Linked DNA regions of Homo sapiens. The protein of the gene in region 3 interacts with the protein of the main gene of each other region in a biochemical or structural test. Each region holds a gene or a part of one and is shown on either strand. Other genes may lie near its edges.

Region 1 (7,606 bases), on a different chromosome or scaffold from region 3:
ACAAACTATGATAGATACAAGTGGAATATTACTCAGTAATAGACTGGAATCGACTATTGATACATGTGACAACACAGATGAATCTCAAAGGCATTATGATGAATCAAAGAAACCAGCCTTAAAAGATAACATACTTTATGATTCCATTTTTATTACATTCTGGACAAGTCAATACTATTGTGACAGATGACAAATCTGTGGTTGCCATGAATTGGGATGTGGCGAAGGCATGAGTACAACTTGATGGAGTTTTATAGAATGATGGAACTATTCTGTGTCATGATTTTGGTGGTCGTTTCACAAATCTAAAACTCAGAAATATCTGCCCCCCCAAAAGTGCCATATTTTGCTGTCTGTTAATTTTATTAAGAGAAGAACTCCATAAATAGAGAACAAATAATGAAACAAATAAACAAAGCCAAAAGTTGATTCTTTGAAAAATTAATAAAATTGATAAGCCTCAAGCAAAACTTGAAGTCTTGATTAAGAAAAAAGAAACCAGAAATTAGCAATGTCAGGAATGAAAGAGGGGACATCCCTACAAACATTAAAAAGATATTAAGGAACTCACATTAATGATATTAAGGAAATAATTGTGAACAACTTTATGCCAATAAATCTGACAACTTAAATGAATTAGACAGATTTCTTCAAAGATACAAACCATTTCCCCTTATATCTCATGGACCAGAAATGAATCACATACTCATTCCTCGGTGCCAGCAAGGCAAAGCGAGGGTCTGGCACAGGGAAGCAGAATGGTCATGGATAGCTTAGCTCAATTACACTTTATTGCTTACAGCTGGGCACACTGTTCCCCCTCTCCATCCAAAAAAATCAGGAGTGTATTAGAAGCAAGGGAAAGCACTTTGTGTGGGAAGCTAACGATGCTTGCCTATTAGGTTTTCAGTCACTTGCAATCAAAAGACTCCTCATACTGTATACTTACTAGCTAAAATGGAATCTTTAAGCAATGTACTTAAAGTGCCCAGAGGGAGATACTTTTGAGCTGAAGGGGACTGAGAGCTCCAAAGCCTGGAAAAAAAATCAGTCTTGGATGGAATCTGATAACACCAAATCTGAAGGTCTATGCTTTCCTTCCAGTGTGAACACTTTTTTTTTTTTTTTGATCAGGATCTCACTCTGTCCACAAGGCTTAAGTACAGTGATGCGATCAGAGCTCACTGCATCCTCAACCCCTCAGGTTCAAGAAATCCTCCCACCTCAGTCTCCTGAGTACCTGGGACCAAAGGTGCAGGCCACTATGCCCAGCCTGAAAACTTTTCTGGCTGGCTTCCTCCATTTCAGGGTGCCTCCCTTCCCTCTTAGCACACTATCTCATTTAGGAGCCCTTACAGGCCTTCTGCTTTTCTCTACTGTAGCACTTCTACACTGCCTTGTGAATACTTGTTTTTTTCTGTTGTTGTTGTTTATTTCCTTAACAAGATGGTAATGTTAAAAGAAGGAATCAAACTGGACATGGTGGCTCACAACTGTACTCCTAGCGTTTTAGAAGGCTGAGGCGGGAGGATCCCTACCAGGAGTTCCAGGCTGCAGCAAGCTGTGATTATGCCACTGCACTCCAGCCTGGGCAACAGAGTGAGATCTCATCTCTTTTAAAGGGAAAAACAAAGACGGAATCATGACTTCATTTTATTCATCTCTATTATCTCTGGTACCCAGGTAGTATCTGTCTGGTCATTTTGTTCGTTTTACCATTAATTAATGAATCAGATGTTTGGTATCAAGGCAAGGTTGAAAGATTTGGCTGGTAAAGAAATGAACCCTTTTTGAATTTAGACATATTATTATTTGCACAGACATTGAAAGCAAAAGCAAGTGCCAGCTCTCCATGAGCTTTTGTCTCAGATACCAAAATGATGACACCAAAACAGAAGGGGCTGGATGACTACAGCATACACTGTGGACACCTTGTTGCTGAGGGGTTAATGCCATGCTGCAGCTAAGCCTTGTTATAACCTGCAGCTGTACTCTAAGAGGGTAAGGCAGAATGGCTCGTTGGAACCCAGGAAGCAATAGAAACTGCCTCATGATAGTCTCTTTGGAAGACAGAGAGCTGAGTGGGAAATGGCCTTGCACTAGCTGCTTACAAGCCTCTCATGCACTCATCTTCTGGGAAGATCCCAAGGTGTTCTGCCAAGACTCAGATCAGCTGTGGTTCAGGCATTGCCTATGTGGCCTATGTGGATATGTGCAAGGTTGTCAGGCCCGGGTATGAAGCTGCTCCCTCCATTCAGGTTGTCCAGAGGAACATGTTTTATCTTGACTAGATCTTTAAGATGGCAACAAGGGCCACCATTCAGGAAAAAATCCCAGAGGACCTCAGAAGGATGGTGTTTCAAAGCGGGTGTTAGTAGCCCCTGCCCTCAAAGGAGTAACTTAGTGAGGAAAACCTTACTGTGGTTTCCATTTAGTAGTTTACAAATAATTAATAATAATAGAATGGAGGCCAGGCACGGTGGCTCATGCCTGCAATCCTAGCAATTTAGGAGGCCAAGGCAGGAGGGTCACTTGTGCCCAGGAGTTGGAGAGCAGCCTGGGAAACATAGGAAGAACTCATCTCTGAAAAACAAACAAACAAACAAACAAATTAGCTGGGCATGGTGGAGCACACCTGTTGTTTAAGGACTTATCAAAAGTGTAAGTCCAGCCTTCCATAAGCATTTCAAGATAAATTATTACAGCATAAAATGGAGGCCTTTAAATAGGAGAATGAAGTGGTTTGATTTGTAATTTTAAATGATTGCATCAACAGCTGTTTTATGGTATAAAATGCCCAGTTAGGAGGCTGAGGCGGGAGGATCACTGAGTCTGGGAGGTTGAAGCTGCAGTGAGCCAAGACTGCACCATTGCCCTACAGCCTGGGTGACAGAGCAAGACCCTGTCTCAAAAACAAAACAAACAATATAATCACAGGAAAAGGGTTTTGTAAAATTTTGCAACATTTTTAACTTCCTCAAGGTTAGGTTTCAGATTTATTATTTTTGTTTTCCAACATTAATTAGATGTAAAAACTCTTAAAACAAAAATGCCTTCAGCTAGCCTTTACAAATCAGATAAGAGGGAAAGGTTGGGAAGAGCAGCCAAGTTGCTTAGGGGCCGTATCCAAGTAGCAGAGTGAAAAGGCTGTACTTCTGAAGCTTCCTGCAATGGAGAGAAGTGTTAGCAGGGGTTGTGAGAAGAGCTCTGGTCGGAATGAAAAGCAGTGGTATACCATCAGCTGCTCGCTCACTTGCTCTCTCATGCACGAATCCAGCGGAGCCTGACGGCACTTTTCAGAGGGCATTTTCTCCAATGAGGCAAAAAGTCAAAGCCTGAGGATCTTGAAATGCTTATGTTAGGCTGGATCTACACTTTTGACCAGTCCTTAAACAACAGGGCTCCTTTGTGTGGTGTCTGATGCCAATCATGTGACCTAGCTAAAGGCAGCAATGTAACCATCCCACAATTCATTTATTTATTCAACAAATATTTATTGAGTTCTCTATTTACCAGGCAGTCAGCTTCCAGGATCTAGGATGGGATACTGTGGTGAGCAAGACAGACAAGGTCCCTGCCCTTAAGGGACTTAAAGACAAAACAAAACAAAAAATAAAACAAGTAAATAAATGAGATCACTTCCATTAATAACAGTGCCATGAAGGGTCATGCGCCATGAAAGGCAGGTGGTGAGGCTGAGGATCTTGGGCCACAATGAGCCGAGGAGCTGAGGTGACTGGGGGCGCCAGGGTCTGGGGGTGCGGGCAGGCAACAGACCACAGGGGACTTACAGGCCATTATAAGGAGTTTTTATGTCATAAATTATTATGACATAAATTGGAGGGCTTTAAATAGGGGAGTGAAGTGGTCTGATTTGTAATTTTAAATGATCGCGTCAGCAGTTGTTTTATGGTATAAAATGCCCAGCTTTAAGATGACCATGCATTCTACAAATTCACCGTGACATCACTGCCAAAACTCTTAACCTGTCTTATCTAGTTTTCCTGACAGATAAATAGGTCGGAATAAAGCTCCATGACATAACTAGTGGGAGCCAAAGATTTGAATCACGTCTTGGTTTCAAATCTTGCTACCCACAAATGAGTTGTGAGCTCTTGTCAGGTTATTTACTGTATTTGTGCCTCAACTATCTCAGCTGTGAAATGGGGATAATGAAAGTTCCTACATCATTTATTTGTGGAAAAAAAAATGACATGTAAAGCACGACGAGAGCGCCTGGCACAATGTAGTAAGCTTTCACAAACACTCACTTTCATTCCTTCTTGCAGGGGATTACTGAGAGGATCCACAAGATAATGCACGTGAAAGGGCTTGCGAAATTGTAAGGACTATCTTAATGGTAGAGTCCTCTTTATGTTTTCTTTTAAACGGTCCAGAGGACGCTGGGCTGTTCGAGGAGAGGCGCGAGGCCAAGCGCAGCCTCAATGCGGTCATTGTCGTGGGGCCGCCCCTCCCCCGCCCGGGGCGCTTCTCCATGGCAACGTGGGCTTTACCTCTCCCCGCCTCCTCAGGCCCGCAGACCGGAAGCAGCCCGCGCCGGGGGCTTCTGGGAAAAGGCTTGTGAACGGCGTTTCTGCGTCTGCCGTGGACAGCGAAGCTGCTGCGGTTCCTGAGCCGGAGGTTTGCGCCGGTGTGCGGGGAACGTTATGAGAGGGAGGGGGGACACCGGGCTAGGGTCTGCGGACCTCTTAGCAGGAGCCGGCGGGGAAGCCTGTCCGGGACCTTCCTCAGCTTCCCGGGAGGCGCGGGGAACAGGCCGCGGTCTCCGCGCCTAGCAGTTGTGGGGCGGGGAGGGGTAGGCGGCAGGCCTGCTTGGGTCTTCGGCATTTGCAGAGAGCTCTCTAACCCCCTGTGTCCTCCGAGACCCTCACCTTCCCCCTCCCCCACCGGCCGGTTTTGTTCTATTTCGAGGCCCTGGCGTCTCGCGGAGGGTTCTGGGAGTCGTGATGGGAGGGGGTGGTAGTGGGACGAGACTTGCGCGGGGCTTCTGGGATTTGTAGTCTCACCGGCCGCAGGCGGAAGTGCCGTGGTTCCGACGCTGTTGTCACAGGGTGGCCTTTGGTCATCTGAAATCCGCGGTCCTGAGTGCTGGGAAGAGGGGCTAGAGGACGTCGGGCCGGGGCCGGGGCCGGGGCCGGGATACACAGCAGGTCTATGCAGCAGTAAGGTGGGCGATCCACCTGGGACGAGGTACCCTGCCCAAACATTGTCGGGACCGTGGGCCTTCCCTCCATTTCCCACAAGCGGTATGCTCTACAGCATAAAAGGAAGAGAAAATTATGTAGAAATACTTGCACCGTTGATAAGCAGGGTCTTGGAATAGGAACGAATGAATGTTGGCTAGACCTTATGTATAAGGCCACCACACTCCAGGGTATTTAATTAAACCAGTATGTATTACTTGTCTGATAAGGCCTTTTCTGATTCTAGTCTTCATCTTGCTTGGGTTACAATAAGTTTTTTTAAGTTGTTATTGTTCAGATTTTGGGCCCTGAATAAATAAATAGGCTGAATGGCTCATTGCTAGTATGTGTCGTAAACAACAGCACGGGCATGATCGTGCAAATAATAAAGGTCCAGAAGCAGTATACAGTTTCACTGAAGGTAGAAGCTGGGGAAACTGTGAGTCCTCCAGTGTAAGGACAAGACACTGGACCACTGCAGGAAGTCAAGGTGCTTATGCGAGTGCCTTTTCTTAATAGAAGTTTCTGTGATTAATGCCTATCATTATAAATATAAATGTACGTATGGTGTGGTGGAAGACTGAATATTTACGTATTATGTGCAAGATAATTTTTCAAAATTATGTGATGTTTTTCACATATGATCTTTTCAATATTATGTGATCTGCTACTCAGCAAGTGAACATTTTTTCACATATAAGTCCAAGGAGTTCTTAAACACCTTAAAAATATTTTTTAAATGGTAAAGAAAATTTTTTTAAGCACATAATAATAAAGCGAACCTTCCTTTTGAGTTGACTTGTGTGTGTCAGGAAACACCAATCCTGAATTGGAAATAATGCGTTCCAGGGTCAGGCACATTTAGAAAGCACTGAAGTAGTCTGGTTCTTACTTGGATTCTTTTGATTATTGACATAGGGTTTGTCGTCTTAGTAGGTCATGATTGGCAAACTTTTTCTGTAAGCGGCCATATAGTAAATAAGGTCATGCATAACTCAACGATAGTGCTATGGTCTGAGAAATATGTTAGGCTATTTCATCCTTGTGTGAACGTCATAGAATGTACTTGCACAAACCTAAATGGCGTAGCCTACTACACACTTAGGCTATCTGGTATAGCCTATTGCGCCTAGGCTACAAACCGGTACGGCATGTTGCTGTACTGAATACTGTAGAGAATTGTAACACAATGCTAACTATTTGTGTATCAAAACATAGAAAAGATAAGAGTAAAATATGATATAAAATGTTTGAAAAAAAAAAAAGATATGCCTGTACAGGGCACTTACCATGAATGGACCTCGCTGGATTGGAAGTTGCTCTAAGAAGTCAGTGAGTGAGTGGTGAATTTGGAGGCCTGGGACATTATTGTACATTCCTATAGACCATATAAACACTGAACACTTAGGCTACACTAAATTTATTAAGAAAACATTTTTCTTCAATAATTAACCTTAGCTTACTGGAACTTTTTCACTTACAAACTTTTACATTTTTTTTTAACTTTTTTACTCTTTTGTGATAACACTTCACTTAAAATACAAACACATTGTACAGCTGTACAAATATATTTATATCCTTATTCTGTAAGCTTTTTGCTTTTTTTTTTTTATAGACAGAGTCTCGCTCTGTCGCCAGGCTAGAGTGCAGTGGCGCGATCTTGGCTCACTGCAGCCTCCACCTCGCGGGTTCAAGAGATTCTCCTGCCTCAATCTCCCCAGTAGCTGGGACTACAGGCGCAATCCACCACGCCCAGCTAATTTTTGTATTTTTAGTAGAGACAGGGTTTCACCATGTTGGCCAGGATGGTCTTGATCTCTTGACCTCGTGATCTGCCTGCCTCAGCCTCCCAAAGTGCTGGGATTACAGGCCTGAGCCACCGTGCCCGGCACAGCTTTTTGCTATTTTTAAATTCATTTTTTAGAGACAGGGTCATACTCTGTTGCCCAGGCTGGAATGCAGTGGTGTGATCATAGCTCAGTGGAGCCTTGAACTCCTGGTCTTTAGTGATCCTCCTGCCTCAGCCTCCTATAGTGCTGGGATTACAGGTGTGAACCATTGCACCTGGCCAATTTTTTTTTTCTTTTGGAACTGTTTTTGTTAAAAGCTAAGATAAACACATTAGCTTAGGCTTACACAGGGTCTGGATTATCAGTATCATTGCCTTCTACCTCCATATCTTGTCCCACTGGAAGGTTTTCAGGAGCAGTAACATACATGGAGCTGTCATCTCCATAATAACAGTGCCTTCTGTAATACCTCCTGAAGGACCTGCCTGAGGCCATTTTGCAGTTAACTTTTTTATTTAGTAAGTAGAAGGAGCACACTCTAAAATAATATAGTATAAAAAGTATAGTAAATACATAAACCAGTAACATAGTCGTTTATTATTGTTATCAAGT
Region 2 (7,010 bases), on a different chromosome or scaffold from region 3:
CAATGAACAGGACATCCCCCGACAACAACAAATTTGCTGGTCCAAAATGTTGATAGTGTTGAGGTTGAAAAACACTGACCTGGAGAGTACAGAATTTTACTCTACCAGCTTTGTCACATACCTCATCAATCTATCTGTTTTCATACATTTAAAAGTAAACTGCAGACAGTACGCTTCTAAGTACCTCTAATGCACATCATTGGAGTTCAAATTAAGGATTTTTTAAGGTAAAAATGAAATGCATACCTTAAATACACATCAGTTTTTAAATGCACACGCCTATGGAACTCAAGCCATATTAACATATAGAACGTTACCATCACCCTAGAAAGTTCTTTCATGCCCTTTCTTAGTTCCCAACCAGTTCTCCCCAAAGGTAACCACTGTTCTGATTTTTTCCCCCACCATACTTATTTTTCTTGTTATAGAACGTCATATGGTTGGAGTCATGCAATAGATATTTTTGTGTAAGGGTTCTTTCACTCAGGGTAATATTTTCATCTGATATCATGTGTATCACTTTCTTTTGATTGCTCAGTAGTATTCCATCATATGAATATACCAGTTCCATTCTTGTTTTGATAGAAACCTGGGCTGTCTTCAGTTTTTTGGCTATTATAAATAAAGCTGCTGTGAACGTTCTTATATAGCATTTTATTGCTCATGACTTTCTTTTCAATAAATATTTATCGAGCACTTACTATATTCCAGGCATTTCCAGGTACTAATTATAGCCATGAACAAGACAAAGATGTCGCATCTCTCAAAGAGCTTATATTTGCACATTTCTGTGTATGTATGAAGAGGGCTAAACATAAAGGTAAAAATAAAAGAAAATTATGGGCCGGGCACAGTGGCTCATGCCTGTAATCCCAGCACTTTGGGAGGCCAAGGCGGGCAGATTACCTGAGGTTGGGAATTCAAAACCAGCCTGACCAACATGAAGAAACCCCGTCTCTACTAAAAATACAAAAATTAGCTGGACATGGTGGTGCATGCCTGTAATCCTAGCTACTGGGGAGGCTGAGGCAGGAGAATTGCTTGAACCTGGGAGGCGGAGGTTGTGGTGAGCCGAGATCACGCCATTGCACTCCAGTCTGGGCAACAAGAGCAAAACTGCGTCTCAAAAAAAAGAAAAAAAAAAAAAATTATGGCTGGGTATGATAGCTCATGCCTATAATCCCAGCACTTTGGGAGACCAAGGAGGATCACTTGAGCCCAGGGTTTGAGACCAGCTTGGGCAACAGAGACCCCTAACTCTACAAAAAACACAAAAATTAGCCAGGTGTGGGGGCGTGTGCCTGTAGGCCTGTAGTCCCAGCTACTCAGGAGGCTGAGGTAGGAGAATTGCCTGAGCCTGGGAAGTTGAGGCTGCAGTGAGCTGTAACTGCACCACTGCACTCCAGCCTGGGCAACAGAGTGAGACTCTGTCTCAAAAAAAAAAAAAAAAGAAAGAAAATTACCAGATAGTGGATAAACTGCTGGGCAGAGAAGTAAAGTAAGGTGATGTGAGTGATCAGATGACTGTGTTACTTAGATTGCCCTGTAACTGGAAGGAAGTGACTTTTAAGGCATGTATAGAAGCTGGGTGTGGTGACTCACACCTGGAATCCTAGTGCTTTGGGAGGCTGAGGCTGGAGTATCGCTTGAGGTCAGGAGTTTGAGACCAGCCTGGGCAGCAGGCTTTTGTAGAGACACGGTGACTTCAAAAAAAAAAAAAAAAAGTTAGCTGATGAGGTGGCACACACTTGCAGTACCAGCTACGCGAGGCTGAGGCATGAGGATCACTTGAGCACAGGAATTCAAGGTTACAGTGAACTATGACTGCACTTCAGCCTGGGCTACAAAGCCAGACCCTGTCTCTAAAATAAATAAATTAAAAATAAGGTGTGAACAGAATGACAATAAGATACCAACCCCGGAAGATCAGGGGGAAGAGGCTTTCTGACAGGAAGCACGTGGTACAATGACCCTAAGGCTCTGTTTTAAAATGCGTGGGGGCAAAAAGCCTGCATTTCTGGAGCTTGGAGAAGAAAGCTTTAAAAAATTATCTCATCCCACTCCTGTTCTTTTTTGCATGAGAGCTGGAGCCTATGCCCTACCACACATCCGTGGATATGCCCAGGATTTGACTTGGGCCTTCGAACTTTGCACAGTAGCTGCTACTAACTTTTTGAGATAATACATTCGTGGGGGCTCAGTCCTGCCTCATCTAAATCACCAGAGACCAAACAAGGACCAGCCCAATATCTCTTGGACTGTAATGTCATAATGTTGTCAGAATACAGAGAAAGATGAAACTAAGCCGGGTCCGGTGGCTTATGCCTGTAATCCAGCATTTTGGGAGGCCGAGGCAGGTGGATCACTTGAGGCCAGGAGTTCAAGACCAGCCTGGCCAATATGCTGAAACCCTGCCTCTACCAAAAAAATACAAAAGTTAGCTGTGTGGTGGGGTGGCACGTGCCTATAATCCCAGCCACTGGGGAGGGTGAGGTGGGAGAATCGGGAGGTGGAGGTTGCAGTGAGCTGAGGTCGTGCCACTGCACTCCAGCCTGGGTAACAGAGTGCAACCCGGTCTCAATAAATAAATAAATAAGTAAATAAAACAAAAATTATCTCAGCAGTAAAAAGCAAGAGAGCTAGTTTTCCCCCAAATTTAACCAAATGTTACTCTGGTGGTTAGTATGCCACCATCTTAAACTCCTTTTATCTGATTAGTAAGGATGGACATTTATTTTATGACCAATTGTTCTTTTATGGTGAATTACCTGTTTACATATCTATTTTTCTATAGCTATCTGCAACTCCCCCGACCCCCACGGTAGCGATTACTATCTTCTCTACTAAACTAAGACTCCAGGGCAGAGAGGCCTATGTTTAATTCATTTGAGGAAAGGCTTGGCACAAAGTGTGCACTTACATATTTTCTTTTTTTCTTTTTGAGAGGGAGTTTTGCTCTTGTTGCCCAGGCTGGAGTGCAATGGAGTGATCTTGGCTCATTGCAACCTCTGCCTCCAGACTTCAAGCGATTCTCCCCCTTAGCCTCCCGAATAGCTGGGATTACAGGCGCCCGCCACCACGACCGACTAATTTTTTGTATTTTTAGTAGAGACGGGATTTCACCACGTTGGCCAGGCTGGTCTCGAACTCCTGACCTCACGTGATCCACCCGCCTCGGCCTCCCAGTGTTGGGATTACAGGGGTGAGCCACCGCGCCAGGGCTCGCACTTACAAATTTTCAAAGAATGGACAGTAAATATTTGAAAATCCCCTCCTCCCCCGCAATTTATCTGACACCGTCTTTCGGTTTTGCTTTAAAAATTCACTCTCGCGGCCGGGCGCGGTGGCTCACGCCTGTAATCCCAGCACGTTGGGAGGCCGAGGCGGGCGCATCACAAGGTCAGGAGTTGGAGACCAGCCTGGCCAATTGGTGAAACCCCGTCTCTACTAAAAATACAAAAATTTTAGCTGGGCGTGGTGCCGTGCGCCTGTAGTCCCAGCTACTCGGGAGGCTGAGGCAGAAGAATGCACTCCAGCCTGGGCGACAGAGGGATATTCCGTCTCAAACAAACAAAAAATCACTCGCTGCGTTTTTTATTCTGACATGGTGCAGGAAGGTAAATTCAAGACAACTTAGGTACTCAGTTTTAGAAGTCGACAGGACAGAATTACGGAAACAAATTTAAGCGTTCCCCCTTTTAGCTCCAAATATAATGTGTTCCAGAAAGGTAACCATCTAGGAAACTCCAAGGCTCAGACCACCACCGGATGCCCACACTTCAGGAGCATTTATATAACTTCGTGGTTATGTCAGAGACGAGAAAACCCATTGACAACCAAACCCCTAAACCCGAACATCCGGCGCAAGCCGCACGCAGGCGCAGATTTACTAGCGTCAGAGCCGATGGTCCCGGGAGGTGGGGGTGGGGTGGTGGTGGCCTAGCCACTTCCCATAATGCCGCGTTCCGGAAGTTATTGCTTTCCAGGGGTCACTCTGGCTTCGACTCCGTCGCTCTCAATTCGTCACCAGGAGGAAGACGGAGCTGGCTGCCCAGCCCAAAGGCCCATGAGGGGATGCAGTTATGGGCTCTGTCGCCGTGGGTGAGTTCTGGTCCCACTGCCTGGCAGTCGTCGCTCGCCTGGCTTTCTGCGCTGGGAGAGCTCCTGTTTTCCGCCCCAACTTCGTTCTCTTCTTGAAGGCCGCTCTCCTTAAGCACGTAACCCGGCTACTTTCCGGTACTGCGATCTCATTGGCTGCATGTTCTGTCAGTTCCAGAAGCTGGCCAATGAGATGCCGCTGCTGGCGGCCTTCTCGACCCCGTGGACCCAGAGGTTCCCCCGTGGGATCGGAGCAGTTAGAAGGGGAGGAGAGGGAAGGTGTGGCAGGCGCCGAGCAAATGGGTGGGTGGCGCGTGGCAGGGACTTCCCTATGGGTTGGAGCTGGATTTGCAGCCGTGTTCATACGGCTGGTAGGAAAAGCAGGATCTGTCACTTATCCAATTGACTATATCTAGGAGGGGATTGATATACGCAAAACTTGAAAGCCACGTTAACACCTGCTGACAAAGTTTTCCACACGCTTACATTTTTAATGGAACCGAGTAGGCAGGGGAAGACTGGGAGGGCAGAGAGTGAAGAGACTTGGAATAATATGAGAACCGGCAAGACTATCTTTGATTTAGATTTTGTATGGAGTCCTGCGAAGAGTCATTTCACTAAGACGTTAATGCTCATCCGATGACACTACTTGAAAAGTGTATTAAGTTTATTGATGTTTTATAGCTGATGGAAGTCACAATATGCTCTCCTCATGACTCATTAGTTGCCTTTATAGTTGTCAGAACTTTACTGAGGCTCTTTCCGCAGCACTGGAGTGACCCCTCTGTCCTCTGCCTGCAGTAATTAACAATTCGTCTTTCAAGTTTTCCTATGGAGTCTAAGCTGCTGCAATCCTCAAACCAGATTTACTAGTGCTGTCTTCACTACTGCAGACTTCTGACTTCTCATTTTTCACCCTTTTCTTTTTCACCAGAACTTGTTTGCTTCATTCTTATGTACCTACCTTTGCACCTTGTAATCATCCTTTATGCCTCAGGTACTATTCTATTTTTCTATTTCAATGCAAGAAGTATTTCTTCAGGACCTGCTATGTACTAACATTATGCTAGATATTATAGGCAGTTCCAAAACTGTGCTTGAAACCATTTATTTTTCTAAGAACTTTAGATTCTGCTTACAGAAATAACATAAACCCAGATTAAAGATTTAAGAAATTCACTAGAATATGGGATAAGGGGACAAGATGACTAGAGCATACCATAAATACTGGGGAAGTTCAGTGGAGAGGTTTATTTAGAGTAGAATGATTGTCTAAGGCTTCCTTGAAATGGAGAGCTTCCAAGATTGGTAAGATTTAGATAGAATATTACAGCTAGAAATCAAAGACATCAAGGCGGGGAGGGTACAAAGTGTTTTGGAGTGGAGTACAAGAGAAGGACTTGGCCAGGTGCTGTGGCTCACGCCTGTAATCCCAGCACTTTGGGAGGCCGAGGCAGGTGGATCACGAGGTCAGGAGTTCAGACCAGCATGGCCAAGATGGTGAAACCCCGTCTCTACTAAAAATACAAAAATTAGCCGGGTGTGGTGGTGGGCGTCTGTAATCCCAGCTATTCGGGAGGCTGAGGCAGGAGAAGCACTTGAACCCGGGCGGCAGAGGTTGCAGTGAGCCGAGATCGGGCCACTGCACTCCGGCCTGGGCGACAGAGCAAGACTCCGTCTCAAAAAAAAAAAAAAAAAAAGAGACAGACTTGATTGGCAGGTAAAAAGTGGTGGTCTTGAAACCCAAACATCTGCATTTTACCTTTTTTTTTTTTTTTTTTTTTTTTGGTAGAGATAGAGTGTCGCTTTGTTGCCCAGGCTAGTCTTGAACTTCTGGCCTCAAGCCGTCCTCCCACCTCGATCTCCCAAAGTGTTGGGATTACAGGCGTGAGCCACCGCACCCAGACAACATCTGCCTTTTAGCTCATCGTTTGTGTGATCTTTCACCATTTTTTTTTCCTGACTTTTCTCCTTGAGTGAAATGCCTCTATTTAAAGTGTTGTTATGAAAATCCGATGTGATAATGTTTGTGAAAGGGCTTTGAAGATCAAAAGCACTATATAGTTATAACTTTAGTGGTTTTTTTTGTTGTTGTTGAGGTGTAATAGAAAGTCAGGATTAGCCGAGCAATGGGGCCGAATTTATAAAGGCCTATGAGTGCAAAGTTTAGGGAGTGTGGTCCAGGAAACTGTTAAATGCTTCCGATCAAGAGAGTGATATGATAAAAATGGCATAACTGGGAGATGAATCTAGTACTGAACTCCCACATCGATTAGAGTGAGTTGGATTGGAGGCAAGAACTTGGGTGCTATTTTATGTATTTATTTCTAAAATCTATAATTCTATATAATTAGGTAGACCTGTATGTACTTTTAGCACTTTTCATGTTTTCTAAGTTTGAATTGTTGACTAAAAAAGTGAAGATTTGATGTGCAGCTAGATTTGTCAAATAGCCTTCCAAAGTGGTTTTGGCAATAATATAATAATGTAAATAGTTGAGAATGCAGTTGTAATCAATTTTCATTTAGCTGATACGCATAGGAAATCCTGGTGTGGAAAATGTACAACAGTGTATCACTTTTTGTATTTGGCTTTGAAGCCATTTTGGAAATTTTCTAACTCCCTTCAGGAGGTTGTTAGAATTATTTTTAATTTTTATTAGAGAAATTATCAGTTTAATTTGCATAGACTGCAGAGCTAAGAAAGGTAGCTTAGAAGGGAAGCAAATCAGTTTTCTGATTAAAGTGCTGCCATTATTTCACATGTATGTAGTGAGGAGTCACCTTCCTAAGAGTATCAAGTTCTGAGACTGTTCAAGATCTGTGTAAGATGACCAAGGTTCTCTCCTGACCTTTACATATATTGAAAACCTCTTAAGCTTGCTAAGAATCACTTTCCTATGCTATGAAAAA
Region 3 (7,035 bases):
TGCTAACTACCATAACTCGGTACTTTCAAATAAGAAACCCTGCTTCTCTTCGATAAAATGGAGATAGTATATCCCCAATGATGTTACTGAGTACTTAACAACTTCAGACTTCAAAGCAGGGCCTGGCACGTAGCACTATTATCTTTAAAGTTTAAATTCGGAGTTCATTCTGTGGATATACAGGACATTCCTACCTATTCTCTCCCTCCCCAAGTCCACCATGCTAACAGCATACTAGTGCAGTGCTGTCACACAGCAAGCGAAGCCAATGTACAAACTGAAATGGTCACACTTAGCCTAAGAAACTGACAATCCCACTCCAGCTCCTGCCAACTTTTTAAATTAAAACTTTAGTAGCTCATATAACATTAAAAAAATATACTTGGGCTATCTCACTTTGTTGATCTACAGATTTGACAGTTCAGTCACAAAGAAATGTGCTTAGTTATTGCTGCTAGATGAGATACTCAAAACAAGTTCCTATTACAACCAAGCAAATTTAATACACAACTAGTTTGGGATATGACCTTTATTGAACTTATCCACCAGAGTGGAAATAATGTCTGTACAAAACCAAATGTTTGTTACTATAACTTCTGCATCACAATTAAAATCCAAACAGTTTTTTAAAAACAGTCAACTCAATCAAAACCCACTACTTCAGAATCAATAGCTTCTTTGAAGCCACAGTAACACTTAAATATGGTTAAGACTCGAATGCAGAAATTTGGTTGGTTGGAAAGCTAATTAAACTTCCAACTTGCTCAAATAGAATTACAAAAAGGCAAAATTGTGTTTTTCACAGAGATACAGTCCACTGGAATCACCAACACTGGACAGCTGTTAGAGTATTTAGAGTCCTGAGATAACAAGGAATCCAGGCATCCTTTAGACAGTCTTCTGTTGTCCTTTCTTCCCAATCAGAGATTTGTGGATGTGTGGAATGACACCTAGGAGAGTGACAGGAATTAATTCTACTTAAGATTTTTTAAAAAATCACAGTATTTGAAACCAAGAAAGTGTATACTGTTCAACTTGAAAGGTATCTTTAAAAACATGCAGCTCAAGTATGAAGTAAAAATTCATTGAGTTATACATATAAATCAAATTTCATGATACAACCATACTTCCATCATTGAAAATATACTTAAATTTCCTCTCCTGGAAAAACTAATTAAAAGCAGCAAAAAATTCCTTCCTCTGAAGAAATTTTTTAAAATGTTAGAAGTTAACATACCACCACCAGCAATTGTAGCCTTGATGAGAGAATCCAATTCTTCATCTCCACGAATAGCAAGTTGCAAGTGACGAGGGGTAATACGCTTTACCTTTAAGTCTTTTGATGCATTTCCTGCCAGTTCAAGTACCTAAAAGGCAGAATCTGTCAGTTGCCTTCCAACTTTCCTTTGGCCAAGATTCAGAGAACAGAATAAAACCCTCACAAACGCAGATCTACCAACTGGAATCGTTCCTCACTATCTGACTGGCAAGATATACAGGGGGCACGCAATTTTAATTCCAAGAGCAGAGAACTCAAGCTCAGTAGGATCCTTGTTGAACACCAGCTCCCTCTAGCGTTCTCTTAGGCCTCTCGCCGCGTTCAGGGCCTGGGAGTTTTCTTGCATCACTTTCCTCCTTCCCTCTTGCCGCCTCCCCGCCCCCCAAACCTTCTCCGGATTATAGGCGTTCACCCATTTACCTCTGCGGTGAGGTACTCCAGGATGGCTGCGCTGTACACAGCGGCAGTCGCGCCCACACGTCCATGACTGGTCGTCCTAGATTTTAGGTGTCGATGAATACGGCCCACTGGGAACTTAAATTTTAAGCATACACAAACATAAATGCACAAAAATGAGAACTAGAGATGGGGAAATTATATGCGCGCCAAAGCAAGGGGCACGGGCGCAGCAACGCGTCCCGACATCGAAACACGTGATTCCTCCCCCCCATATTTATCGTATGGGCAGCCCAAGTCGCGACACCGCATCACCCACGCATACACAAAACGCCCATCGAGAGCGATGAATAACAAAAAAGGAAATGCAAAGAAAAACATCATGACTCCCAGACTGCACGAACAACTACTGACCTGCAAGCCGGCTCTCTGCGAGCGGGAAACCGCCTTTGTCTTGGCCTTTCCGGAGTCCTTTCCAGCCTTACCGCCAGCCTGCGGCGCGCACACGCCCGCGAGCGGAGGAGGAACGGAGAATATAGAATTACCAAGGCGGCGCGCCCATCCCCCACCGCGGCGCGTCCCGCCGCGAGCGCGTCCCCGCACCCTGCCGGGGTCTCCGGCCCGCGGCGCGCCGCAGGGGCGACCCCGCCCGTTCGCCCCCCGCCGCGCGCTCGCCACGGCCGCGCGCCTCCGCCCGCCGGCCCCCAGCGGCGCTGCGCGCGCCACCCAACCGTCGCCGCCCGCCGCGAGATCCGAGGCTGCTCCGCTAGCAGCCGACAAAACACCTCCCCCCACTCTTCTAAATCCTGTCTCCGCGCGTTCCCAACCGTCGCCACTTCACCCCCATCCCTCTGTGTAACGGGTTTTTCTCTCGCCGGCAAAAACCCGCGGAGTCATCGAGCGTCTCTGCGAAGTTTACCATTTCGAATTCCGCTGAAGCTCAAGCAAGCAAGGCAGAGAAAAGGCTAATCGGACCCACGGTGAGATCCCACCACCTACTCCTTCGTCGCACCGCGATTCAAACTGCGCTGTCTCCCGCCTTCCCTGCTCCCTTTATACTGCAGAATGTTCCCTCATCCGGGAACTCGGATTGCTCATCCCACCAATGGCTGCCACCCGCCCTCGGGACGCGTCCTTGAGACTTCAGCCAATGAGCAAGCGAAGAAAAGGGTGGAGGGGCGGGCGCTTCTAATCTCAAGCCGCGATTGGGGCGTGGGGGGAGAGGCGGGGGAAGGCGGAGGGATGGGAACGGGGGAGAAGAAGGGCACCGCGGCGGGAGGGAAGAAACAGAGCGAGCTACGCTGCAGGAGCGCAGTTACCAGCCGGCTGCGATCACGTGCCTGGGAGGAGGAGCTGAGACCTCAGGGGAGGGGCGCGCGGTAGCGTCCCGGGTCCCCTAGCAGGGCTCTAGAGACCACGTGAAGTCTCCTCGGTATGTAGCACGCCGCCCCCACCACTCCCAGCCCCATTCCCAGCGCCTCTCGGGCGGAGACCTGCGACCCGCAGCCGCTTTCCGGGGCCCCGGACACCCCTTCCCTACCCTCTCAATCCCTGGCGGCTCCTCCCGTCTGACAGGTGGCGCGAACGCGTCCAGTGAGAGGAGTCTGAGGTTTGCCCTGACGCCTTCCACAGCCTTAGTAGAGATTCCGTGTTTCTTCCGTCTAGGCGAGTCCCCAGCCACCAACAGATCACGACCCGCTGCTCCCACTTTATTTTCAGCCGGGTCTTCCACCTCTCCCTCACTACTTATGAAATCCTCCACGGAATAGTTCTGTGACAGCAAACGGTGAAGCCAAGTCACCTCACTGGTCACGAAACCCTTTTTGTCTATACTTAGGGAGCTTCTGGCGAGGCAGTATTCTTTAATCAAATCATAAACCATATTTTTTGGAGACTACACATCAATGGGTTGTACCTGTAGCCTGGTGTGTAAAGCTCATTTAGTGAAACCTCAGAGCTATTATGTGTCAACTTTTCTACAGTAAGTATTTTGCCACATGACAAATGTTCGGCAAATGTCGATGGAGTAACTCTGACATGATTTTCAGGCAGTTAGAGGGTCCATGCAATGCAATCAGTTGCAAATGATGAGGTTAAAGTAATGGTACTGTACACACAGTACTATCCTTCCAACTAGTAGGTTATTAACACCTATGTACATCTCCAGCTGCTTGGGGACAGTAGTGTCTCAATCTCATTTGCAGTGTTTTAGTGTATTACATTTTTTAACATAATTGAATAGTTTCAATGTGACGAACATTTTGAAACATATACTCTATGCTGGGCATGGTGGCTCACACCTGTAATCCCAGCACTTTGGGAGGCCGAAGCGGGCAGATTACGAGGTCAGGAGTTCAAGACCAGCCTGGCCAACATGGTGACACCCCATCTCTACTAAAAATACAAAAATTAGCCAGGCATGGTGGCGCCCGCCTGTAATCCCAGCTACTCTGGAGGCTGAGGCAGGAGAATTGCTTGAACCCGGGAGGCGGCGGTTGTGGTGAGTCAAGATTGCGCCACTGCACTCAGCCTGGGGAACAGAGCGAGACTTTCTCAACAACAACAACAACAAACATATACTCTGAAGTACTTTAGATTGGGTTTCAATTTGAAAGATTTTATCGAATTAGAGGACCTCCCAATTTCTGTGAGATAAATTCTAGAGAAGAGCTTCCCAACAATTTTGACATTGAGGTTTATTATTTCTTGGAACCAAGGAACTCTTATGATGTCGTCGATAGCAAGACTTCAGCCGTTTTCCTACTGATAATATAATAATGATATATTAAGCTATGAAACCTGATAGTTAACGATGGCTCCAGGGAAGCTTTGTGATATATAAAAAACCAACATTAATGCCATCTCTAGTTTAGATAATACTCTGCCAGCTCTTTGCTATGAAGCCCCATAAAGGGAATTTACTGTTGCCTCGCTGAATAGTGGTTAGGAGGATGAACTCAGAAGCAAGTACAGATGGATTCTGTTCTGCCTCCTCCTCACTGTGTCATCTTAGTTACTAATCTTTCTGAGCTTCGAGTTCCTATTCTGTGAAAAGATAGTATCATCTATTTTCACATGGTTGAAAGATTAAGGAAAAAGGTATGCAATGTACATAGTAGCATGTGTTTGGCACGTAGTTAGCCCTCAGTAAATAACTGCTATTATTTTCTACATTGGATGCTGGAGAGGGATGAAATAAAGTATCTTTTATTTCTAAATCTTTTTTGCTATTTGGTTTATTTTCTTTCTTCGATTTGGAAGCAGCAAGCTTGAAACCTGCCCAAAGTATACACAACCAAGTCTTCCAACATCCAAACTAAAATCCAAAATTGGTTTAATAACTCAATAATTTTCCTTCAGAGAACAGGACAGTATTACTTTCTGCACTTTTCTCAGAGTGGTATGATGATTTCCTACTCTTTTTCCTGCCCCCCCCAGAAAAGGTATGATGCAAATATGTTAATATTGTTGGTTTATCTTTCCAGTTCCTGTGTTAATAGTAATGCATGTATATAATGTACTTAGCCAGAGCTATGTAATTACTTTTGTTTAATGCCATACCCAATTAGTTCTCTCACCATAAAAAAATATGAGATGCCAAGGCAAGAGGATCACTTCAGCCCAGGTGTTAAAGACCAGGCTGGGCAACATAGCGAGACCCCATCTCTACTAAAAATACAAAAATTAGCAAGGCATGGTGGCCCCTGCCTGTGGTCCCATCTACTCGGGAGGCTGAGGTGGAAGGACCACTTGAGCCCATGGTTGCAGTGAGCCATGATTGTGCCACTGAATTCCAGCCTGTGTGATAAACTGAGATCCTGTCTCGAAAAAACAACAAAAAATCCTCAGATGAGGTAGGCGAACCCACTATTATTGACACTTTCCTTAATAGCCTTTTCCTAACTAAGCCAGATTTTCCATGACTAGTTGCTATCTCCTTTGAAACACTAGCATGTATGTTAACTACTATTGTTCTTGTCTTTTTATGTAGAGAATTTGAGAGTCTTACAATTGGGAATTATAAATTTCTCAACTACATCTTGCCTTAAAAACGTATTTTTAAGAAAATATGAATAAGTTCTCAAGTTATTTCCAAGGATATTAGCCTAGATCGATAATGGCGGCAAAATTCTTTTCATCAGGAAATCTACATTAGAATCTTGGTTCTCTCTACCTAGGGCACCTAGGAAAAATATGTGCCTTCAAGGATTCACACAGCTGTGAATAACTGAGTTCCAGTGTGGTATTATGCAAAATATTGAACTAGAGTAAAAGAATGAGGGTTGAGTTTGGGTAGCCACTTACTTGCTATATGGCCTGAAGTATGTAAAACACTGAGGCACAGTTTCATTTATTAAATAGGGATTCGTAACACCAGATAAACCAACTTGATAGAATTGTGAAAGAGTTTCGTTAAGTGCGAAGAATATGTAGAGTGATGTAATAATATTTTTGGCACCGAGGCCATAGTCCTTCCTGAATTCTGTTTAGGTTGAGAAGCCTATGTGTTTAATTCAGTGTTGATAAAACCAAAGCCATCGATTTAAATTCCAAATTGCCCAGCTTTGCACTTCTCATGATCACAGATTGCACACAGGTAACAATTCACAAATGCAGGGAATAGATGACAAAGATCAGCAGAATCTACTCCACCCAGATCCACTGCCATTTCAGGAAAACAAAAGATCATGCTTTTAATATAGCACTAATTTACTTTTTCCATACATTAGTCCTCAGAATTTTTGGAAATTTATTGTTTTAAAATTAAAAAATCAAGATTCTTATCATATCCTTTTATTATCTATTATTGATATCAATATCGATCTTTAGGATTTTCAGGGCAGGGGAAGGGAGTCCATGTGTTGAAATTTTTTTCCTAAATAATAGTGTATTTGCCTAGGCAGTGGGTCCTCCTTCTCTGTATTCCTGTGTTCTACATCTATGGATTCAACCAACTGAGGATCAAAAATATTCACAACGTAAGCTGGGTGTGGCCAGGCGCCGTGGCTCACACCTATAATCCCATCACTTTGGGAGGCTGAGGCGGGTGGATCACTTGAGGCCAGGAGTTTGAGACCAACCTGGCCAACATGGTGAAACCCTGTCTCTAATAAAACTACAGAAATTAGCCATGTGTGGTGGCATGCACCTGTAATCCCAGCTTCTCAGGAGGCTGAGGCAGGAGAATCGCATGAACTTGGGAGGCAGAGGCTGAAGTGAGCAGAGATCATGCCACTGCACTCCAGCCTGAGTGACAGAGTGAGACTTGGTCTCAAGAAAAAATAATAATAATAAGCTGCATTTGGGGTGTGGCAGTTCATCCCTGTAATCCCAACAATTTGGGAGGCTGAGGTAAAAGG
Region 4 (7,025 bases), on a different chromosome or scaffold from region 3:
TAGGAAAGCTATTCAGTGAAGAATGAAAGCTTCCTTTTTCCTTCTTCCACCTCTCCACTCCCGTTCCTTTTCCATTTATATCAGTCTCTATCCCCAAAGGTAACCACTATTAACAGTTTCTTACAACTTTTTTCTTGCCAGGGTGCGATGGCTCGGGCCTGTAATCCCAGTACATTGGGAAGCTGAGGCGAGAGGATCGCTTGAGCCCAGGAGTTTGAGACCAGCCTGGGCAACAAAGTGAGACCCTGTTTCTTCAGAAAAATTAATAATGAGCCGAGTGTGATGGTGCGTGCCTGGAGCTCCACCTGCTGGGAGGGGCTGAGGCAGGAGGATCCCTTGAGCCCAGGAGTTTGAGGTTACAGTGAGCTGATCTCGCCACTGCACTTCAACCTGGAAGACCATCTCAAAAAAAAAAGCTTTTTTTCTTTATTGACCTAAAAAGGATTATATAAAGCAATCACACTGTTTTGCTGCTTACATTTTTTCCACTTGATAACATCGTAGAGATTTTTCATATTACTACATGTAGTCAATCTAATTCTTTTAAAGAGTGGAATAATATTCCATTTTATGGATGTAAATCACATTTTGAAAGTAAGGCACATTAAATTTTTAGATAATGTATTAAACTTGGATGTTCTGCTTCCTGTAGTTAAATTGCTGCCTGTAAGAAAATGAATTAAATGGTGTGTGATAAAACACATACTTTAAGATCAGAGGGTACTGTGGGGCCCAGTGGTTTGAACGAGCCTGGCAGAGTAACCTGGGAATGCTGTTGAAATACAAACTCTCATATTTACTCCAAATCTATTAAGTCAGAGTCTCTAGGGATGGGACCTAGGGAATACAATCTTCAGAGGCATGTAGGGAAGTGTGAAACATTCAGGTTTGAGAGCCTGTGAAAACAATTCTTCAGCTTTCAAACAACGAATATCTTAACATACACTTACCATTGAATCATGGGAAGTTCAATAGAATAAAAAAATATATATGTATATACACTTAGCAAAATGAGTATACGCAGAATTGGGAATTTTTTTCTTTTTTGAGAGGCCTACCATTAATAATAATGTACCCAAATTTTGGGTTATATGCCCCTTTTTATGTGTCTTTTTTAAGTAGAATCGCTTTAGAAATACACAATCAGGAAACTAAATAAAAGTCATTGACCAATGGAATAATAAATGGAATAGGGAAGAAGTATATCTAGTTTTCCCATGGTATTATAAGAGTAGATTTATTGATACTGTAGAATAATTTTTTTAACTTTTTTTTTTTTTGAGACAAGAGTCTCACTCTGTCACCCAGGCTGGAGTGCAGTAGTGCAACCTCAACTCCCGGTTCAAGCGATGCTCCTGCCTCAGCCTCCAGAGTATCTGGGATTACAGGTGCCGCCACCACATCCTGTTAATTTTTGTATTTTTAGTGCCGATGGGGTTTCACCATGTTGGCCAGGCTGGTCTTGAACTCCTGGCCTCATGTGATCCACCCACCTCAGCCTCCCAAAGTGCTGGGATTACAGGCATGAACCACCATGCCCAACCTAGAATAATTTTCTATTTATTTATGAAAGTTTGGTGGTTTAAGGCCAAATATTCACCATCACCATATATGAACTTTTCCATTAGGGTAGTAAGAAACTTACGAGACTGGTACAGCAAGTAAATATTTGTGATTTTTATTAATACGCCCTTAAAGTCCAGAACTAAAATATTATTACATAAAACTATTCTTTTGGGTATATCCACAGCTCTCTGAATATGTCCATATAGATAAAAGTAATTATATAAAAGTATTTATTAGAAAAATCAACAGGCTGGGCACAGTGGCACAGACCTATAATCCGAACACTTTGGAAGGCTGTGGTGGGGGAATCACTTGATTCCAATAGTTGGAGACCAGCCTGGGCAACATAGTGAGACCTCATCTTTACAAAGCATTTAAAAAAAAGTAGCTGGGCATGGTGGCACATGCCTGTGTCCTAGCTACTCGAGAAGCTAAGATGGGAGGATTGCCTGAGCCCAGGAGGTTGAGGCTACAGTGAGCTATGATCACTCCACTGCAGTCCAGCCTGGATGACAGAGCAAGACTCTGTCTCAAAATAAAACAAAAACAACCCACCTAACCAAGCCTGGTGGCTCATGCCTGTAGTCCTAGCTACTTGGGAGGTGAAGGTGGGAGGATCACTTGAACCTGGGAGGTCAAGGTTGCAAGGAGCCATGATTGCTACACTGCACTCCAGCCTCGGCGACAGAGTGAGACCCTGTCTTAAAAAAAAAAAAAAAAAAAAAAAAAAGGCCGGGCGCGGTGCCTCATGCCTGTAATCCCAGCACTTTGGGAGGCCGAGGCAGGCAGATCATGAGGTCAGGAAATCGAGACCATCCTGGCTAACACAGTGAAACCCCATCTCTACTAAAAAAAATACAAAAAATTAGCCGGGCATGGTGGAGGGCGCCGGTAGTCCCAGCTACTCAGGAGGCTGAGGCAGGAGAATGGCATGAACCTGCGGGGGTGGAGCTTGCAGTGAGCCGAGATCGCGCCACTGCACTCCAGCCTGGGCAACAGAGCGAGACTGCGTCTCAAAAAAAAAAAAAAAAAGGAAAGAAAGATCAACAGGAATTATCAGCTAATGAGGTTAGTATTATGCCTTATTTTGTGCTTGATGTACAGTAAAAATGTAATTAATTTAGACCAACTTGGATGAACATAGTTTATTCTGATTTTTGCATGGTCAATATTCTTCAAGAGATGTACAGAATTTAAATATAACTATAATTTCTGAAAAATGCTATGGATTTCTGAATTAGTCAAATTAATAGCTTATTTTATCATAAAGTTCTCTCTCATAATGTCTGTTATGCTTTTTCTATTGTTGAAGAACAATTTCTGTGAGGGAAGTATCTCGGCTTCTCCCTTGAATTCCAGAAAATCTGATCCAGTTACACCCAAGTCTGAAAAGAAAAGTAAGAACAAACAAAGAAACACTGGAGATATTCAGAAGTAAGTGAACATGACTATGAATTATTTGTTGACCTCCTACTGTATGCCAGTGTTTTCTGTTCATATAGACTACTACTGATTCTCAAAGTTTGGTCCGTGAACTTTGTATGAAAATAGTCTGAGGTTGAGGTAAATTGAAAAGGAGAGAGCTACTCACACAGCTTCCTCTTGGCTTCTCACTCAGCCACTTACTGTGGCAGATTCATACTTTTATCTTACTGCCTCAGGATTTCCAGTTTTCTCAAAGTGAACCATTGGATTCCTCTTTCTCTTGGTTTAAATTCAGATGAAAAAAATGGGTCCCAGATAGGCTTATCTTCACTGAAAGAGTTTACAATTTGTCATTTCTTCTCTATTACACAAAATGCATGAGTCAGGTAGACAAAGGTGGCGTGATTGAGTTTCACCACAACACCCCTCCAGGGTCAGGTGCCAGGTGGAGTTGGTGGCTTTACGCAAACATCAGCTTTCCCATGGTAACTCACAGTTGGAAAAGTTTAAAAACCACAGTCTAGACTTGAAAAATACATAAGGACTTCTGGTTCAACTGAGGAAATATGTGCAGGTAACTCATCTCCTTCCAAGATTTGTTGAAATTTTGTATTTGAGGTGGGAGGAAGCTTAGGAGAAGAGAATGTTAAATGAGGGAGGTACTATTAAAAAAAAAAAAAGATGTGACAATATCAGTGTCGCCAGTACTCATAATGTGCAAAGTAAAAATGAGAAAACCGCTAAAATGCAGAAGTATTTCATATTGATACAATATGCTGTTTAAGGCTATAACTCATGAATCTTTATATATCTAAATATATACTTTGAAATACATAAAAATAAAAAATTACCAGAGATACAAGAAAAACTAAGGATTTAAAAGCAAAAATTGAGAAACTGATGGATTAAAGTTGTAACAATATTAAAAACAGATAAAGTCTGTTTTCTAGAATATATGAAAACTCTTATAACTCAACAACAGAAGACAAATAATTAAAAACTGGACAAAGGGACTTGAGTAGACATTTTTCCCATGATGTACAAGTGGCCAATAAGTACACGAAAATATGTTTAACATCATTAGTTATTAGGGAAATGCATATCAAAACCACAGTGATATAGCATTTCATACCCATTAGGATGGCTATAATCCACAAAAAGGGAAAATAATAAGTGTTGACAAAGATGTGGAGAAATTGGAATCCTTGCGCATTGCTTGGTAGGAATGTAAAGTGGTATCGTGGCTGCAGAAAACAGTTGGTGATTCCTTGAAAAGTTAAACGGAATTAGCATATGACCCAGCAATTCCACTCCTAGGTATGTACCCAAAAGAATTGAAAGCAGGTATTCAAACAAATACTTGTACATGAATATTTGTGTCAACATTATTCAAATAACCGAAAGGTAGAAACAACCCAAATGTCCATTAACAAATGAATGGGTAAACAAAATGTGGCATTCCATTTTATGTGAATTACACCTCAATTCAAAAGTTTAAAAATGAATAACAGGATTATATAGTTTTAAAATTAAGAAAAATTTCTAAACAACTTGTTGATTAAAGAGTAAATTTTGTTGGAAATACAGAACTGAAAATATGCATGAAAACTGGTATGTGGCTAAAGTGGTATTTAGAAGGCTTTACGTGCCGTATCAGAAAAGAAGAAAGGGCAGCCAGGTGTTGTGGCACGTACCTGTAATCCCAGCTACATGGGAGGCTGAGGCAGGAGGATTGCTTAAGCCCAGGGAGTTTGAGTTTGGGACCAGCTTGGACAGCATAGCAAGATCCTGTCTCTAAAAAAAAAAAAAAAAAAAAGCCAGGGACAGTGGCTCATGCCTATAATCCCAGCACTTTGGGAGGCTGAGGTCTGAGGTGGTAGGATTGCTTGAGGCCAGGAGGAGTTCAAGACCAGCCTGGGCAACATAGTAAGACCCTGTCTCTACACAAAATAAAAAAATTAGCCAAATGCAGTGGCACATGCCTGTAACCCCAGCCACTTGGGAGGCTGAGGTGGGAGAATTGCTTGAGCCCAAGAGGTCGAAGCTGCAGTGAGCTATGATCATATCTCAAAAAAAAAAAAAAAAAAAAAAAAAAACGCAGCTGAAAACGTATTTAAAAAGACAATTCCAGGAATACATTGCTGGTTTAATGGTAGAAAATGAATCACTGTAAGTTATTCAATTAGCTGTATAAATATGAAATACACGAGATGATAATTCTTAATGAAGTGGTAACAGAAAGAAACTTTCTTAACCTGTTGAAGGATATCTACCAAAATCTTACATCACATATCATACTTCATAGTGGAACATCGAAATTATTTCCTTTTTTTTTTTTTCCAGACAGTCTTTCTTGCCCTGTCACCCAGGCTAGAGCGCAGTGGTGCGATCATGGCCCACTGCAACCTCAAACTCCTGGGTACAAGTGATCCTCCCGCCTGGGCCTCCCAAGGTGCCTGGATTACAGGAGTGAGCCGCCACGCCCCGCCATTCCCCTTGTAAGGTCAGGAATACGCAAGGGTGGCCTGCTACTCTCCACCTGCATTCAGACTCATGCTGGAGAGTTTAGTCTGCACAGTAACACAATAAAAGGAGATAAAACATATCAGCCTGGAAAGGAAGGAAAAAGCAGCTATCATTCTTCAGAGGCGGTATAATTATCTATGTAGAAAACCCAAAAAGTCAGAGGTACATTTTTAGAATGAAGAGTTTAGCAAGGTTGCCAGATATAAAATCTGTACAAAAAGTCAATTGTAAAATGTAACTTTAAAAATACTCTGTCGATAGTAGTATCAGAAAATAAAAGTACTTAAAAATAAATGTGTTAAAATCTGAGGCAAGCATGGTGGCTCATGCCTATAATCCCAGCACTTCGGGAGACTGAGGCGAGAGGATTGCTTGAGCCCAGGAGTTCAAGACGAGCCCGAGCTGCACAGGGAGACCCTATCTCTTAAAAAAAAATTAAAAAATTAACCAGGCATGATGATGCACACCTGTAGTCCCAGCTGCTCAGGTGGCTGAGGCAGGAGGATCACTTGAGCCTGGGAGGTTACGGCTGCAGTGAGCTGTGATTTTACCACTGCACTCCAGCCTGGGCAACAGACAAGACCATGTCTCAGAAAAATAAAAATCTGTACGACCCGTGGAGAAAATTGTATTATATTAAATATACAATATTCATGGGTTAGAAGATGCCTAATACTACAAAATGGTCAGATCTCCTCAGACTGATCTATAGAGTCAGTGCAATTCGAATCAGAATTCCAACTTTTCAAATTTTTCTTTTGAGACGGAGTCTCGCTCAGAATCACACAATACTAATCAATAAAGTGTTTAGAGATGCAAAAGTGTGGCAAATCTGTTTTAAAAAGTAAGATATAAGAAACTCAGGATAGTATGAGGTGGGAGATGACGAGGCCCCATAGGAGACTTTCAAACCAATGATTTCTTTTCCCTTCAACCAAGTAATAAGCATATGGGCTTTCATGGTAATACAGATTTTTAAACTTTTTAGAAGAATAACACATTTTTTTGTTTTGTTTTTAATGGACCACAGAGCAGCAAACATATATTTTAAAGTGCACCAGTCTTCGGCACCATAAGACAGGGTAAAAAAGAAAAAGTAAAAAATTTAAAAAGACGGTGCACCAATCCTAAGTATACTTTCTGGTGAATTTTTGTGTGTGTATAAACCACCCACCAGATGAAGACGGAATATTTACAAAGGTTTGCTTGTGCCCTTTCCCTTTCCAGTCAGTGTCCCCCTCCCCGTGACCGTGCTGTACTGTGATTCTTACATGTATTGTATGACTGTTCTCTCATAAACTTTGTTTTCATGAGGCAGACTTGGAAAGATCTTAAGACATTAGTGAAAAAAGCAAATCACAAGCCGGGCGCAGTAGCTTATGCGTGTAATCCTAGCACTTTGGGAGGGTGAGGCAGGCAGATCACTTGAGGTCAGGAGTTCAAAACCAGCCTGGCCAACATGGTGAAACCCCGTTTCTACTAAAAATACAAAAAAATTAGCCAGGCGT

Evidence for each region.
Region 1: the proteins of H2AZ1 (region 3) and ZNF24 form a complex in vitro, tested with the Homo sapiens proteins (one study listed by BioGRID).
Region 2: of the proteins of H2AZ1 (region 3) and USP16, one has a biochemical effect on the other in vitro, tested with the Homo sapiens proteins (one study listed by BioGRID).
Region 4: of the proteins of H2AZ1 (region 3) and RNF168, one has a biochemical effect on the other in vitro, tested with the Homo sapiens proteins (3 studies listed by BioGRID, with this or other methods).

The regions. Positions count from the first base shown.
Region 1 is NC_000018.10:35,341,405-35,349,010, reverse strand, and holds the start of ZNF24 (zinc finger protein 24), read left to right. Parts: upstream 1-4,590; 5' UTR 4,591-4,651; exon of another isoform or gene 4,652-4,957; intron 4,958-7,606. UniProt on the Homo sapiens protein: Transcription factor required for myelination of differentiated oligodendrocytes. Required for the conversion of oligodendrocytes from the premyelinating to the myelinating state.
Region 2 is NC_000021.9:29,020,677-29,027,686, forward strand, and holds the start of USP16 (ubiquitin carboxyl-terminal hydrolase 16), read left to right. Parts: upstream 1-3,991; 5' UTR 3,992-4,101; intron 4,102-4,151; exon of another isoform or gene 4,152-4,401; intron 4,402-5,032; exon of another isoform or gene 5,033-5,095; intron 5,096-7,010. UniProt on the Homo sapiens protein: Specifically deubiquitinates 'Lys-120' of histone H2A (H2AK119Ub), a specific tag for epigenetic transcriptional repression, thereby acting as a coactivator.
Region 3 is NC_000004.12:99,947,574-99,954,608, forward strand, and holds H2AZ1 (histone H2A.Z), read right to left. Parts: upstream 2,703-7,035; 5' UTR 2,598-2,702; coding exon 2,595-2,597; intron 2,168-2,594; coding exon 2,090-2,167; intron 1,814-2,089; coding exon 1,700-1,813; intron 1,368-1,699; coding exon 1,238-1,367; intron 951-1,237; coding exon 889-950; 3' UTR 515-888; downstream 1-514. UniProt on the Homo sapiens protein: Variant histone H2A which replaces conventional H2A in a subset of nucleosomes. Nucleosomes wrap and compact DNA into chromatin, limiting DNA accessibility to the cellular machineries which require DNA as a template.
Region 4 is NC_000003.12:196,479,745-196,486,769, reverse strand, and holds part of RNF168 (E3 ubiquitin-protein ligase RNF168), read left to right. Parts: intron 1-2,878; coding exon 2,879-3,000; intron 3,001-7,025. UniProt on the Homo sapiens protein: E3 ubiquitin-protein ligase required for accumulation of repair proteins to sites of DNA damage. Acts with UBE2N/UBC13 to amplify the RNF8-dependent histone ubiquitination.